Homo sapiens: one gene and its partner. The protein of the gene in region 1 interacts with the protein of each later gene in a pairwise test. Each region holds a gene or a part of one and is shown in the gene's direction. Other genes may lie near its edges. The genes, in order: SERF2 and BOLL.

Evidence for each region.
Region 2: the proteins of SERF2 (region 1) and BOLL interact in a two-hybrid assay, tested with the Homo sapiens proteins (2 studies listed by BioGRID and IntAct).

Annotation. Positions count from the first base shown.
Region 1 is NC_000015.10:43,790,619-43,794,535, forward strand, and holds the start of SERF2 (small EDRK-rich factor 2), read left to right. Parts: upstream 1-1,701; 5' UTR 1,702-1,758; coding exon 1,759-1,765; exon of another isoform or gene 1,766-1,993; intron 1,994-2,356; coding exon 2,357-2,465; intron 2,466-2,957; coding exon of another isoform or gene 2,958-3,091; coding exon 3,092-3,155; coding exon of another isoform or gene 3,156-3,354; 3' UTR 3,355-3,917. UniProt on the Homo sapiens protein: Positive regulator of amyloid protein aggregation and proteotoxicity. Induces conformational changes in amyloid proteins, such as HTT, driving them into compact formations preceding the formation of aggregates.
Region 2 is NC_000002.12:197,778,468-197,782,384, reverse strand, and holds part of BOLL (protein boule-like), read left to right. Parts: intron 1-519; coding exon of another isoform or gene 520-534; coding exon 535-663; intron 664-3,318; coding exon 3,319-3,410; intron 3,411-3,917. UniProt on the Homo sapiens protein: Probable RNA-binding protein, which may be required during spermatogenesis. May act by binding to the 3'-UTR of mRNAs and regulating their translation.

The DNA of each region.
Region 1 (3,917 bases):
ATTAGCCGGGCATGATGGCGGGTGCCTGTAATCGCAGCTACTTGGGAGGCTGAGGTGGGAGAATAGCTTGAACACAGGAAGCAGAGGTTGCAGTGAGCCGAGATCACGCCAATGCACTCCAGCTTGGGTGTCTCTTATTAACTGTTTATTTATTATTTATTTTGAGATGGAGTCTGGCTCTGTCGCCCAGGCTGGAGGGCAGTGGCGTGATCTCGGCTCACTGCAAGCTGCTGCTCCTGGGTTCACACGGTTCTCCGGCCTCAGCCTCTCAAGTAGCTGGGACTACAGGCGCCTGCCACCACACCCAGCTATTTTTTTTTTTTGTATTTTTAGTAGAGACGGGGTTTTACCGTGTTAGCCAGGATGGTCTCGATGTCCTGACCTCGTGATCCACCCGCCTCTGCCTCCCAAAGTGCTGGGATTACAGGCGTGAGCCACCTTGCCCAGCCTTTCTTATTAACTCTTTTTTTTTTGAGATGCAGTCTCGCTCTGTCGCCCAGGCTAGAGTGCAGTGGTGCGATCTCGGCTCACTGCAAGCTCCATCTACCGGGTTCACGCCATTCTCCTGCCTCAGCCTCCTGAGTAGCTGGGACTACAGGCGCCCGCCACCACGCCCGGCTAATTCTTATTAACTTTTTTTTTAGACGGGATCTCGCACTGTCGCCTGGGCTGGAGTGCAATGGCGCGATCTCGGCTCACTGCAACTTCCGCCTCCCGGGTTCAAGCGATTCTCCTGCCTCAGCCTCCCAAGTAGCTGGAATTACAGGCGCGCCACCACGCCCGGCTAATTTTTTGTATTTTTAGGGTTTTCACCATTGTTGGTCAGGCTGCTGGTCTCGAACTCCTGACCTTCTGATCTGCCCACCTCAGCCTCCCAAAGTGCTGGGATTACAGGCGTGAGCCACCACGCCCGGCCCTCCAGGGTCTTAATACAAAACCGGGTGGCTGGTGGCGATGGTACAGTAAGAAAAGCTCCAGAGGGGAAAAGCGAATATGTGAATTATCTAATCTCAGCCACTGATCCAACTCCATAGTCTGTGACTTTTGGAGTCCTCCAATACTTCCAAGCTGCATGTTCACATTTAAAGTTTCTGGGGGAAAACGAACAGGGTAGAGTTTTAGGAAATACCAGATGTTGCTGCGATTTTCTACAGTGAAGGGGCGTGGAAGGGGACAATGGGAGTAGAAGCGGGTTTCTGAAGTTGTGTTTGTACTTGATTTTAAGCGAGCTGTGAACAACTCGTGTCCAAATAAGTGGCTGAGAGGTGGTCCTAAGTAAGCACAAGTTTAGTAGTAGAGTACTCGTAACACAGAACTGGCTGAAACCCCGCCCTCTTGTCTACGGGCGTTCTTTCAGGGCGACTTTGTCAGTACCCCAAACTGTCCCCGCATGAGGTCACTCTGCACGGTCACGTGCTCGAGCCCGCGGGAGCGCCACATCGCCAGCCGCACCCCTCCACCCCCAACCTGCCCACGTGACCCGGCCTAGTTTCTCCAGGCCCGTCCCTACGTCTCACTCGGGAAGCCCCGCCCCACGCTGAGCGCTCCGCCTGCGACCCTCCGCCACTTACCCACCCCGGCTCAAGCACGACCCGTGGATCCACGTGCTTTTTCTTGTCCAATGGGAGCCGGCTCCCGGGCGCGAAGGGGCGGGGAGGAAAGGAACGACTGTGCTACGTTGCCAGAAGGGGCGGGACCTGCAACGTCCGACAGAACGAGGGGACGTAACGGAGGCAGGTTGGAGCCGCTGCCGTCGCCATGACCCGTGAGCACCGAGCCCCCTTCTCCTTGCCCTTTTCTTTCCGTTCACCCTAAACACCACCGGCGAGGCGCCGGCTTTGACCTTCCGTAGCTTCCCTAGCAAGGCGTTTCTCTGGGCGCGCTCTGTGGCCACCCTCACACTCGGTGCCCGGAAATCGAGCCCTTTGCCCACGGCTACTTCACGGGACCACCCTCCCGGGTTAGGCATAGGCCCTCCCGGATCTTCCGCGGTGTAAGGAGAAGGCCAGCGCCCCTGTGATAGGCCCAGAGCCCCCACTCCACAAGCCAGCCCATCCCCCACGGAGACCCAAACCGTCCACACACACCTTGCCAGCTGTTTGGGCCCCACGCCGCCCCAAAACACGCCTCCAGCTGGCCCCTTGGGACCTCCCTTCTCTAGTCCGTATTTTGACCTGGCCCGTGGCAGATTCGCCACTCCCCCCTACCCCAAGCAGCCTGGGCCTCGATGGGCCGTTGTCGGGGCCCGGAGATTGAAGTGGTGTTGGATCCTGCTGCTGGCCGCGCTGGGGTAGAAGGGTCGCCGGTGTGTGGGCAGAGCGGCCCCCGCGTCTCACCTTTAATTTTCTTTCCTTAGGCGGTAACCAGCGTGAGCTCGCCCGCCAGAAGAATATGAAAAAGCAGAGCGACTCGGTTAAGGGAAAGCGCCGAGATGACGGGCTTTCTGCTGCCGCCCGCAAGCAGAGGTAGCCCCAGGGAGGGGAGGGAAAGGGACGGTGGAGACCTGGGTTAGACCAAGGGTTATAGAAGGAAAGAGAGCTACCTCAGGGCTTGAATGTGGACTAGTCGTGAGGAGCAGAGTGCATTGCTTCCTCTAGGGTTTTATTTCCTCCCCACCCTCCAAATTGTTAGCTCACAGCCTTACAGGAAAGGACGGGGGCGGGCGCCTGCCCTCAGTCTGATTTCTGAGCGTCCCTGGGTCTGACCTTAAGGGCAAGGGCAGGGAGCTTCACATTTCAAATACAGTTGTGGTTACGGCAGCCCAGTACTTTTGGCCCTCCTTGCTGTTCGGTTCTCCTCCCTTCTCCCAACCTCCTCACTGGTGTTGCTGGGTGTGGTCCTCAATACAGAATAGAGACCCTTGGGCCTGTGTCACCAGACTTCTGACCCCTTGGGCAACAGCCAGATGGAGACTGGTCGCCTTTTGAGCCTCAGCTCTCTTCCTCTTGTTCTCCTAGGGTGGGAGTACAGCAGCCAAACGCTGAACTTAGTCCCATCCACTTCCATCTTATCCTTTGTGCCCTTCATCCCCCTGCATCTTGTCCTTTTTGCCCTCTGGTACCTCCCAGTGCCCCATCATCTCTACCCCCAGGGACTCGGAGATCATGCAGCAGAAGCAGAAAAAGGCAAACGAGAAGAAGGAGGAACCCAAGTAGCTTTGTGGCTTCGTGTCCAACCCTCTTGCCCTTCGCCTGTGTGCCTGGAGCCAGTCCCACCACGCTCGCGTTTCCTCCTGTAGTGCTCACAGGTCCCAGCACCGATGGCATTCCCTTTGCCCTGAGTCTGCAGCGGGTCCCTTTTGTGCTTCCTTCCCCTCAGGTAGCCTCTCTCCCCCTGGGCCACTCCCGGGGGTGAGGGGGTTACCCCTTCCCAGTGTTTTTTATTCCTGTGGGGCTCACCCCAAAGTATTAAAAGTAGCTTTGTAATTCCTTGAGCGCCTGGTTTGACTGGGGACTTGGGGGGATGGGGTTGGAAGAATGACTGCCCTTTCCCACCAAAAAAGGGAGAACTCTTTAGATTCAGATTGTGGGTATGTAGACTTAATAAGTGAAACATCACAGAAGAAGCCTTTATTATACAATGACAACCAAACAAGTACTCCGGATATGCAGTAGAGGAATCCTCTAAGAACCATAGAGACTTCTTTTCTGTGATTTTTGTTCCCCACCCTTGAACACCATCTCTAGGATGGAGTTGGCCTAAGAGTGAATGCTGCAAGATCTGTGTTTATGCCTCTTTTCCTCATTCTTCCTCAGTTTGTTCGTCTGCTTGAAAGTTGGCCAAAAAATCCTGCTGCTCACCGACTTCCCGTGGTCAGCTGCTGTCAAGCGTTCACTTTCTCTTCTGTCATTCCTCATGGAATGAGGGTGGTTTTGTCTTCCCGCTTCCCTTGACCTCAAAATCAGGATTAAAACCTG
Region 2 (3,917 bases), on another chromosome or scaffold:
GCAATGCCTTTGTTTTTGTCAGCATTCAAACATGATTATGGAGTGGTCTTGTTTTTAATCTTGATCCATCAGAGTCACAGGGTGACTTTGTCTGATGTTGGTGTTCTGTTAACAAGAGAACACCACAGCCTAGCTGTGAGTGCCAGGCCAACTCCTAACAACACCAGGGTGTAGTTGATTGTGTCAGGCTGGGACTGTTTTCTCTTTCTCAAACATGTTCATGAGTTTAATATTCCCCTTAATAATTAAGTAATAGGTTTGATAATAATATAAGCATTTTAAGTAATATATTTAATATTTAAAATCTCTATAGTGGAGTAGATTCTGTGTTTCCTAGTTCTGTTGCCTTAAAAAGCTCTTAGCTCTAATTATAATTTTTATAATATTAAAAGTAAAGCCTAGAATACTATATTTTGCCTAAATGACTCTTCTTTTTGAAAAATATATGTTTTTGGTCTGCATCAAAAGCAGACTGCATTATACCCAGTGCAAAAAGTGTAAAAGAATTTTATTTTACAGCAAACATCAAACCAGATGCAAACAGATTCATTATCTCCATCCCCTAATCCTGTGTCACCTGTGCCTTTGAATAACCCAACAAGTGCCCCAAGATATGGAACAGTGATCCCTAATCGCATCTTTGTAGGAGGAATTGATTTTAAGGTACCTATTTATGCATGCAGTAAAGTGTATTTTTTCATTAGAAGTCTTTATTTCTCAGAAATTATTTCTTTGTGCAACTATAAAATAACATATTTGCATAATGATTAACAGATTTTGAATTATCTTATTATAAAGAATCTTTTCAACCAGCATGTAGGTTACATAAAGCATTAAAAACTGTTCAATGTCAGATATAAAGAAATTGATCCTCACTGACTTGCTGTGGGCTGCTAGCCACATAGTGACAGAGTGAGACTAGAAGCCTAGTTTTCTGTCTCATAGCTCCATACTCTTCCATACCAGAACTAATTATACTTTCTTGCCTAATATTCCAATAGCCAAAATAATTGATTATTATAATTTTCAAAAGAGACTCTATTTTTTAAAAACTTACTTTTATGAAATACTATTTCTTTACCCCAACTCTTATCTCAGATTCCTGAGCAACCTCCTAGGCATCTATTCTTTGCAAAGCACTTTCTATGTTAGAATTTAGGATTTGATCACCAAAAAAGTCCTGTGTCCTTGTCAGAATAAAGCATCTTAAAAGTAGTATATTTAAGCAGAAAAAAAAATAACTATTCGGTACTAGGCTTAGTACCTGGGTGCCAAAATAATCTATACAACAAACCCCAATGATGAGTTTATAACAAATCTGCACGTGTACCCCGAACTTAAAATAAAAGTTTTTTAAAAACTAATATATTTATATCATGTAATCAGCCATTCCACTGTTTCAAGAAAGCATAGTTCATGACATGATGTGCAGTGCCCCCCAGCCCACATAGGGGAGGTAAGAGTAAACACCTACAAGAAAGGCATGCATAGATATTTTAAGTGGAATACTCTTACTTTCAAATGGATATATAGAAGGATTTCCAAGCTTCTATTTTACATATTAGAAATTATAGGGAGAGTTATCATTTTCAACAAAAAAAAAACCTTCCTTATGCCATTAGGTGTGATATTTGACATTTATAACTATTTCCATATAACCAATCTGTTACAATTTGGGTGGAATTTCTTTTTTCCTGCACAAGAGAAATGTTACACTTAGTGTATTTGCCAAAACAATGAGTCTTAAACAAGTATATGATTGTTTCACTAAAAATAAAGTAAGAAAAATTATTTCTTATAAAATATTTATTTTTAAAAAGATTTTCTTTGTGGAAAATACTGATAGCTGGCAGAAATGTTCAATTTGGGAATTCATTTATATTACAATAGATTAGCATGTTTTTAAAAATAAGTTATCAATAAATATAAACATTTGTATGGCCAGGTTATTTTAGGTTACTGAAGCCCATCAGCTACAGCATGCACTTTGGAGACGGTTGTTATAATGCAGCCATAGCTTTAAGGTAATTGCTAGGGCTTCCTCCTGTATACTTATACCTTTTTCAAAACCACAGATAAAGGCCAGCAAGGAAATCATTTACTTTAATAGCAAGTAGTCACAGACTTTTTAACCTTTCATTTTTATAAGCAAACAGACTATCCCTCTTAATGCTTACTTTTCTTGACTGTCTCTTTGTCACTAAAGAAGTGGAGCTACAAAATTGAGGTAGTGATTATTCTACCAGAGAATAGTTGGAATTAATTTGTATTCAAATATCTAGTAACAATTCTTATTCTAGCATTGATTTCATTTTCTGTTAACTGAAATAAAAGTCATTCAGTTTTTCTTAGATTGAATCAGTATTTGTCATTATGCAGCTTAGCAGGCTTTATGTTACCAACTAAAAACCAATAGTGTATGTAAGTAGTGAGGTGGCAGTTGAACTCAAAAGGCATAGCTCTGCACTAAGGCATGTCTTTTTGCAGTGTATATAAAGAAATTTTTTTCTAGAGAAAAGTTACTCTTGTAGACAAACAGTTACAGCTAAACCAGGAAATGAAATTGCAATGAATTTAGTGTCAGTATTCTGAGAAAAGGTGATATGAGTCTATTATCAGACTATTTCAATTAAAAAAACAGACATGCCAAAACCATCTTTGTAGACACCTTGTATGCTTTAAATCTAATTATGATTCCAATTTTTATTTTATTATCAAAACAATGTCTGAATTTAGCTGAAATGTATATTGAGTACAGATAAGGAATCTAATAACTTTAAATCTTATAGTCACTCCATTGTTCTCACAGTTGAGTTCAAGCACTTTTGGAAATACATTCCTTTCCTAAAACTGACTTAGGAAAGGAGTTCCTGAGACTACTGATTAAAATAGAATGACTGGTGTAGGCCAACACAACCTAGTTCCACTGCCATGACTGTCTCTGAGCCACAAGAGCCAAAATAGTATTGTACCCTTACTATGGAAATAGCATTCCTAATCCAAATTGGCTTTTTAAAAACTGGCCAGCTAGAGAACAAGAATCATTTAAAGATTTCTTTAAATAGTGAGTTTTGTAGTTTTAAAATAATTCAGCTTACATTTTTATTGGCATATGGTAATTTAACAACATAGCTATTGCATAAAGCAAGATATTTACCTTGATTTTAATCACCTAGTGGTTTATGCACTGTTTTGATGATGAGAGGCATTTTTCATGCATCTTATCTATAACTTTTTCTGTCTCCAGAGCAAGCATGAGAATTATTCATCTTTTATCAACTAAAAATGCTTTTTAACGTTTTCTTTTTATGCCATTAGACAAACGAAAGTGATTTAAGAAAATTTTTTTCCCAGTATGGGTCTGTGAAAGAAGTGAAGATTGTAAATGACAGAGCTGGAGTATCCAAAGGGTTAGTATCACTATAGATTGTCTATGGAATTAGCAACTCTATTTTCATTGGATGACTAGGTTTTGTACGCCAGTTTACTTTGGTTCCATTTTCCAGCAGAGACCATCATGCCCTCTTCTTTCCTCCTACCTTTTGATTTCCTTGTGTGTGTGTGTGTGTGTGTGTGTGTATTTTGGAGGGAGGAGACACTGTAATATTTCTTAATTTGTTGAGAAGTTATTCTTGCATGGGTGGAGGGACCATTCAGTGGTAGGCAGCAAGCACTTAATGTAAGTAGCAGATGTACATTAGCTGAGGAATGAGAAGCAAAAGGAATCAGATTCTTTTGGAATTGTATCCCTGCTTTAGGCCATAGAGAGCTTTATTTGAAAACAGCTGACACCAAGAAATGTCTGTAGGTTGTGCCTCAGAGACCTAATTAGGGGACCAGTATGAGAAATATAATTCTAGTGAGAATGATTTTTAATTGCTATATCAATGATAATGAAAATTGAGAAGAAAGTAATA